Homo sapiens: one gene and its partner. The protein of the gene in region 2 interacts with the protein of the main gene of each other region in a biochemical or structural test. Each region holds a gene or a part of one and is shown on either strand. Other genes may lie near its edges. The genes, in order: MFHAS1 and CRTC2.

What was found.
Region 1: the proteins of CRTC2 (region 2) and MFHAS1 form a complex in vitro, tested with the Homo sapiens proteins (one large-scale study listed by BioGRID).

Annotation. Positions count from the first base shown.
Region 1 is NC_000008.11:8,788,873-8,792,678, reverse strand, and holds part of MFHAS1 (malignant fibrous histiocytoma-amplified sequence 1), read left to right. Parts: intron 1-2,244; coding exon of another isoform or gene 2,245-2,272; exon of another isoform or gene 2,273-2,354; intron 2,355-3,806. UniProt on the Homo sapiens protein: Probable GTP-binding protein. Functions in innate immunity and more specifically the inflammatory response as a regulator of the Toll-like receptor TLR2 and TLR4 signaling pathways.
Region 2 is NC_000001.11:153,955,664-153,960,155, forward strand, and holds the start of CRTC2 (CREB-regulated transcription coactivator 2), read right to left. Parts: upstream 2,950-4,492; 5' UTR 2,835-2,949; coding exon 2,682-2,834; intron 2,568-2,681; exon of another isoform or gene 2,421-2,567; coding exon of another isoform or gene 2,398-2,420; intron 1-2,397. Other genes in the region: SLC39A1 (zinc transporter ZIP1), read right to left, coding at 4,435-4,492. UniProt on the Homo sapiens protein: Transcriptional coactivator for CREB1 which activates transcription through both consensus and variant cAMP response element (CRE) sites.

The DNA of each region.
Region 1 (3,806 bases), on a different chromosome or scaffold from region 2:
CTTGTGTCTTATCCAACACCTAGTTCATGCAGTCAGTAAGTTTTTTTTGGTTTGTTTTTTTGGTTATTTTTTTGAGATGAAGTCTCACTCTGTAGCCCAGGCTGGAGTGCAGTGGCGTGATCTTGGCTCACCACAACCTCCGCCTCCTGGGTTCAAGCAATTCTTCTGCCTCAGCCTCCAGAGTAGCTGGGATTATAGGCACACGCCACTGCACCTAGCTAATTTTTTATTTTTTGTATTAGTAGAGAAGGAGTTTCACCATGTTGACCAGGCTGGTCTTGAACTCCCGACCTCAGATAATCTGCCCGCCTTGGCCTCCCAAAGTGCTAGGATTACAGGCGTGAGCCACGCGCCCGGCCAATAAATATTTTTAGTGTCACTTTCAGGAATGGTTTTGCAGGCTGGTGTGTTAGTATGAAGCAGATTTCTGAGCTTTTGTTTTGGGACAGAGTCTCACTCCTTCACCCAGGCTGGAGTACAGTGGCATGATCTCGGCTCACTGCAACCTCTGCCCCCTGGGTTCAAATGATTCTCCTGTTATCCCTGCCGAGTAGCTGGGACTACAGGTACATGCCACCATGCCTGGCTAATTTTTGTATTTTTGGTAGAGATAGGGTTTCACTGTGTTAGCCAGGATGGTCTCGATCTCCTGACCGTGATCCGCCTGCCTCGGCCTCCCAGAGTGCTGGGATTACAGGCGTGAGCCACCGTGCCTGGCCGATTTCTGAGTTTTAAAGAGGTTCTCATAAACACGTTATCCTTGGCACAGTTCAGTCTAAAGGCAGTGGCTTATCTTGCTCCTGCCACTGCCAGCCCCCTATTTCCTGGATGGTGGAGAGGAGCTGGAGCTGCTTGGAGAGCTCCTCCTTTAGAACTTCTTCATGGCAGCCTAATTAGGCCCTAGATATTTCAGGGGTACTGAGCCTTGACATTAGGAGTCAAAAGATAGGGCAAACCTATACTTCCCGTGGGCAAGGTAGGAAGCAAGTAGACCGCATTATCTTTTAAAGCTTTTATTTGTGAATTCCTGTCTCTGTCCAGCTACTCTTCAGGTTGAGACCCAATATTCCATTTCCCAGGGAGTGTGAGCTTCTCTGGACAAATGGCAGCTTGCTGGTTGCGTTTCATTTCTAGGGTTCCTGCAGAATGCTTCTCTTTCTCCTTCTAAAGAGCTTTAGAGCAAATCCGTCCTCCACCAAACTGAAGACTCTTTGATAACCTGCCAGATAACCCAGTTTATCTACTGATTTTTGGGTAAAAGACCAAGCAAATTCAACAGGTCATCATATGAAAATGTTTTACCTTGAGGCATTACTGGAATGCGACCCACATTCTAACATGTGGTTTCTTAATGGACTGACCCTTGAATATACAGGAAATGGGCATGTGTCACTCTTATTTCCTGATGGTTGACGTTTCTCCTGCAGCGATACCGTATCTGTCTGTGCTCCGATATGTGGGGAATGGTGGGAGTTCTGAGACTGAAGAAGTTAGTTCATTCTGATTTTGGCTGATCATGTGTTAACAGAATTAGCAAAAAAAAAAAAAAAAAACGGGTGGGGTGGTGGTTTGAAAATGGTTGAGCTAAGCTTTCTCCTTTTTTAGGAAGTACTAATAATAATAGAGGGGAAGGCTGAGTTATTGCATTTCGAAATACCCTTTTAAAATCTTGGATTATTGCCTCTATACTGTAGAGTTCCCATTCAAGCAAGATCCCCACTAAATTCCAGTTACTTGCTAGCTGTTTGTAAGTATTCTCAGAAGTACCGTGGTTACTTTGCACAGGAATTTTGGCAGTAACATCGTTTTGACATAAAGACATTTAAGACCAGTTGCAGTAGCCTTTCATAAAAAGCAGGATGAAGTCTGTAGCCTTTATATCACCAAATAAACAGGCCACGTATGCCTAACAGCACACAAATTAGCATGAACTTGATAAAATATTTTTAAAAAGCAGTGGCGTGATATGAATTAGGCTTCATCACAATGGAGAATTTTTCACTGACCACAGAATTTTAAAATATAGAGGGTGAGGATGGGATGGTATTTTATAAGAAAAGGCCACATGTGGAGGTTGCCTGTGGGGTGTTTCACATTGATTTGCATTGATTTGTTTTGTTCTATGCAAGGAGTGAGGCAGCTCTTTGCCTTGCTGTTTTAACAAGCTAGGAGGAATTGTGTTTCTTTAATTATTTAGTCTCCCGTCAGCCACATTGATACTGGAATTTTTCCCTCTCTGCTTAGGTATCTTCATACTTTCTTGGAAAATTAAGTGGAAAAGATAGTGCTTCTTTTCCTTATGCCATCATTTTTACTGTACCCAAACTGTGACTTTAGGAGCACCAATTTTTAAGGGTAAGTCTCCGTGAAACAGAGAGAATTTCTTAAATAGGTAAGGCCCTCTTGAGGACTCAGAGAGATTAGGGGGGATATGGGGGTGTTGGGATGAAGAGATTTTGGAGAACAGGAATCCTAGACAAACCTTATACATCTCTAGAATCAAGTTGCATATGGGAATTAGGAAGAAGGGAACTGCTTGATTCTTTTGCTTAATTTACTATGATATTGCATAGACAGTGATCTTAGATCCTTGTTCAAAAAAGGAAGTCATTTTTGAAAAATGTTAATATTATGCAGAAATAAAACATCAAGTGGGTCCACACCTTCAGGAACTACACAGGAAAGTACCGGGATGGTCACAAGTAGGGAAAGGGAGGGACTGGGGGCAGGAGGGGAGAGGGGAGGAACGGGCAAGGCCGGGTAGGCAGGTCTAGGACAGGCTTATTTGAATAATCTCAGTGGCCCTGGGGCAGAGGGGTTGCCTTAGTCGTCTGGCACCTGGCTCAGGGGTGATTAGGGCAGGTGGATGGTGGCCTGGAGTGTGAGAGCCAGTAAAGGAGGTGTTCCAGGTGTGGGTTCAGGATTAGTTGGTTTGTATTGGAAGAGTATACTCCGGGCAAATTGTTTTACCATCTCTAGGAATTGGCTAATCCTAGGAGGGGCAGTCCCTCCAGAGTTTGCAAGGTCCGGAGTAGGAAAGCACCAGAATACAGAAAATAAAAGACATGGTTAATACAACATGCCATGGCTTCAGTTTCAGCCTAAGTGTCTCGGTACCTTGCGTCATAATTTCTTTGTTGCATCCTGGAAGGGCAGATTTCAATTCCCTAACCTGGGAGGACTCGGGGGCTGGGTGCCCCCCAGGCTGGACCCTCCCTTCAGCCCCAGACCTCTGTTTCCAATGTCTCACGTGGCATCATCCCTGGATGTCTGTAGGCTTCACAGGTGTACAGCTGAATTTATTGCCTTCCTCCCGCAAAGTTCTTCCTCAGTCTGTGACCTGTCTTGGGTAACAGCGTAGCTTTGTACCATCGGCTCCAAGCTAGGAGTCCGTAAGCCTCATTGCCTTCCTCTGCTTTCTTCCCTATATGTAGTAATTCTCCAACACCTTTTATCCCATCTCATCTGTGTCGTGACATGAATGAATTTGACCCACATCTTCAGCTTCAGCCTCGGGCTTCCCTCTAGGGCCCAACCCCCCCAGCCACCACTTCCCCCGTCTCTGCCAAGGTTCCTGTGACTGAGTCTCAGCTGGCTGCCTGCTCTCTTATCTTTTTGTCCTTCAAACCGACAATAATTGTCTTTTAACATCAGACCTCATCACATCTCTCCCTGTTGAAAAGCCTTGGATGGCTTCCTGGTGATCACAGGCTCAAGTTCAAACTCCTGGCCGTGGCTCACAAGGCCCTGCACAATCAGACCCAGCCACTCTGCCAACACACAGATACTCCCTTACCATGGGAGGT
Region 2 (4,492 bases):
GACTGAGATCCTGTCTCCAAAAAAAAAAAAGTTAAAAAAAAAATAAAGAAATTATCTGCCAGAAAAAAAAGGCCAGTGTTGGGGTTTGAAAGGTCCACCGAGATTTGGTGCAAATAACCCACCAGAGCCCATCTGCAGACTGCCCTCATCAATGATATCACTACTGCTTGACATCATCCTGCCAGGCAGAGACAGATACTCTGCTGAGGGCCTGTCTCATTTGGCATCACTCTAAGCAGAGTCCCTGAGGGGCTGCCAGGAGCTCCCGGGCTACTCACAAGGGGGAGTGCCTATTAGGAACCTCTGCTTTCTTTCCAGATGCGTCCAGGACTAATTGAGAGATTAAGAGGAAGGCCACAGGTGGATGTCACAGAGCCATTACTGCCAGCCTCTTTCCTTCCCACTCTGGAGAGCACAGGCTTCTGGGCTCTGCCACTTGCCCAGCCTCAGGAAGGCTACACAAAGCCTGCACCTCCCAAACTAGAACATCCAAGGAATAGCAGCTCTCCTAGCTGGAAAAACAGCACCAAAACCAAGGGACATTCTTCCACTGAATCCTAAGGCTCTTGAATTGGCAGGGAAGCCTGGAGAAGGAGGGTGGACAGAGAGCAGCAGCCCACTCCAGCATGGGCCAGGGCCATCTTCCTGGTCTCATCCTCACTTTGGGGAGCTATGTCTGGCATAGGCGTAAGACAGCCTGGCATGGGTTTAGCCTGTGTACAGACATCCTGTCTCTGTGAGAGGTGAGCATCTATTTCCAAGGCTCAGCCCCTGCGACCAGCCAAATAAACAGGCCCAGGGCAAGGCCATGGGGAGGAGGGCAGCTGAGGAGGGGCAAGTTCTAAGAGCTTCCAGGGTCACACTCTTGTACAGAAGCCAACATCAGAACTGACATTCTGTTCCAGGAGGTCAGCCTAGTGAGCACTGTGCTGACCTCTGGACCACTTGAAGACCACTTGAGGTCTCATATATGGCAACCCCAGTATCTCAGTGGTATAGCCTCCCATGGCCATCTCTGTCTCAAATGAGCCCTCCCACCTGGCCAGATAACAGGCTGAGTCCCAGATCTCTTGTCCCTAGCTCTAGACTTTTGGGTCCCCTGGCCATGTATGCCCACTAGACTTTTCTGTGTAGCTGAGAAATTAACCAATAGGAGCAAGGTGGGTAGAAGGGGCCTTTTAAGAGATCGAGGCACCGTAAAGAGAAGCCCCAGCTTTTGAGTTTCGCACAGCCTTTCTTTGCACATACGAGCCCTAAGATCCCACCATGCCTCTGCTAGAATCACAGTCCTGAGGGCAGGGCCTCACGCTATCAAGATCAGCCTCCCATCTTCCTGTCTCTGTCCCCAACATGATGAAAAAGCTCCTAAAGGGGAGCAGTCTACAGTTAGATAATAATCCTCACAATGGTTACAGTGGGTTATGCACACACATGCATTTAAGTGTGCACATGCGTGCACAGACACCCTCCCAGATTTGCCTCCCCACCTAACTTCTGACTCCCACAAACTAGGGCACATAGTCCCTAGAGACTCAAAGGGGAAAGGACGAGAAAAAAAAAAAAGTAACAGAGTCAAGGGGGATACACACAAAAATACAACCAGAGTCACAGTCATAAATGCAACCACAGTCAGACCAGCAGAAAAAGGCTAGAGATGTTGTAGTAATGTTCCACCATCAATCCTTAAATTCCTTCTAGCTCTCTGCCATGAGGAATCATTGCAATATCCTTACCTACTGTTGTTTTAGAAGAATGTGTCCCTAAATTAAGACTGCATACCACCTAGGCGGACTCCTACCCCTTGGTCCCTCTGACCTCCAGCCTTGGAAAGCAAGAAACCAAGCCAGGGGGGCTTCAGAGGCAGCCTGGCAGAGGCCTGAAAGTTCTTTCAAGAACTCCTAGGAATGAATATTCTCAACACATAGAAGACCCTCCAAGGCACCCTACACACTAACCCACAAAGCAGCCAACTCCCTAGAAAGCTCAGCAAACCATAGAGTTCCACACAACTTATGGTCGGACGGTTACCCAGTTGTCGGATTCAAAACCCTACCTCTCCTCCAAGGAGGCCAGGACAAAACACCAAGCAATGGACCTCACCTTCATTCACGTCAGGAAACCACAAGAAGTATTTGAAAAAGGAAGCAAAAGGACGGGACGCAGGAGGGGACTTCCTGCCCCACTATACACAGCACCGCTCGTTCAAACCACTCAAGGGGCCCTTTCCCGGGGGCACCAAAGCGCAGAAGGCAGAGGGACCAGTTTGGAGGAGATCACAAACTCAGAGGAGCCAGGTTACAGACAAGCAGCCCTCCTCCCAGGCCATACCCCAATACCAGGCATGCTTCAGTAGCGTCCTCGAGGGGACTCCGTCAGGGATGCACAAGGACCACTCACCTCCTACCTCCGCCGGACTTCATCTCCCCTCTCCGCCCACTCCCACCTCACGTACTCGGCCCCCAGTCGCCTCTACACCCCGAACCTCTCCGGTGTTTCGGTCTCCCCCGGCAAAATCCTTCTTCCTGCCCCTCGGCCCTCAACCTGCGCCTCCCAAACGGCGGCGCCCGCGTCCCCTGCTCTGTTCCGCCTCCTTCGCTGCGGCGCCCGCCCCCGCCCCGCCTCTCCGGTCTCCGCTCCGTAACTGCTCAGCTCTGCTCCGGCTCCCCGGCGCGGCCCCTCACCCGGGTGGAGCCGATGTCCATCATCACCTCCTCGAAGGCCGCCGTCTCCTCGGCCTGACGCTGCTTCTGCAGCGCAATCTTCTCACTAAATTTGCGCGGATTGGAAGCCGAGGCCGTGGCCGAACCAGGCCCGTTCGCCCCCGACGTCGCCATCTTCCTTCCCCGTCCCTCCCTGCCACCCTCCCAGTACCAGCCGCGGCCTCCGCCGCGGCCTCGGCCCGGCTCCTCCAGCCGTAGCCACCGCCGCCTCAGCGAGCACCGCGAACCCGGCCCCAGCCTAGCCCTGACCTGTTGCGCGCGGGGGCCGCCGGGAATTGTAGTTTGTTTACGAGACTCCTTCACATCCCCAGTCACGCAGCACTAGGAGGAAACGGACTCCACTTCCCAGCAGCCCTGCTGACTCCGGAAACTGGGGACTTGGCTCCACCCTCTCGGCTACTCCCTGAGAGGTGCAAGCTGGGAAGAGTAGTTCTAAATTAGCCCTGAGACTACGAACGGAAAGGAGAGAGGGATTGAAGAGAGAAGAAAGGAAGAGGGAGGGGAGGGAAGAGAAGGGAAGCCGAGGGGTGGAGACCGGGAAAGAAGTACCAAGACACAAAGGAGGAAAAATTAGGTCATCTTCAGGGAAGGGGACTATCGGGTCCTGAGTGAAAACAGTGAGACCAAGAATCTTAAAACAGCTGTAAACATCTGGGACTCAGGCCCTCTCAGGCTGGCCACATGCCCACCCCTTTCCCAAAACAAACGAATCAGATACTGTACAGATGTCTAGAAACATCTTTTATTTGGGTAACAGGTCCCAAAACAGGTCAGTTAATAAAATAGATTCTAAAGAATATGTCCCTATGCACAGCCCTCCCTCCCCAAAAATAACGCTGGGGGTAGGCATTGCCCTTCCCCCTTGGGCTCCTCGGGTGTATTTAAAAAAATGTTTTGGCAGCTCAGTGTTTATCATCTGGGCATGGGACACCATGTCCATGTCCCCATATTCCTAGGGTACAGCAGCAGTAGATGGCTGCAACAACCTTCCTCCTACCCCAGCCCAGAAAATATTTCTGCCCCACCCCAGGATCCGGGACCAAAATAAAGAGCAAGCAGGCCCCCTTCACTGAGGTGCTGGGTAGGGCTCAGTGCCACATTACTGTGCTTTGAGAAAGAGGAAGGGGATTTGTTTGGCACTTTAAAAATAGAGGAGTAAGCAGGACTGGAGAGGCCAGAGAAGATACCAAAATTGGCAGGGAGAGACCATTTGGCGCCAGTCCCCTAGGAGATGGGAGGAGGGAGATAGGTATGAGGGTAGGCGCTAAGAAGAGTAGGAGGGGTCCACTCCAAGTGGCAGGGTGCTGAAATGGGCTAGGACCAACAGGACACTGACTCTAGGTTTATGACCTGTCCATACCCGTTCCACAGCAGCTGGGTACCCACCTCCAGCCTCCCATGTGAGCCTGTCCTTATGTATAGTGTCCAACCTCTGATTCTAGCAGTCAAGTGTCTTCCCCAATCCTAATGTCCCCTGATATGTCTCTAGCGACTTGACCATCTCTTGTTCCTTGGGACTGGGGCCAGCCTCTTGTCTGCCCACTTCCCTCTCATTAGTCAGATAGCCCCAAAGGCTCTATCTTTAGCTCCCAGAGAACTTTTTGGTCCTCAGTATTTCCCTTCCCCTTTCCTTCCTATTCCCCACAACTGGGGGAGGGAAGGGAGAACAGGGGCACCTGATCATCAATCTCCCCTGCCCCTCTCTTGAAGCCCCCTAGATTTGGATGAAGAGCAGGCCAGTGAGCAGGGCAAAGCCTGCTAGGAGCAGAATG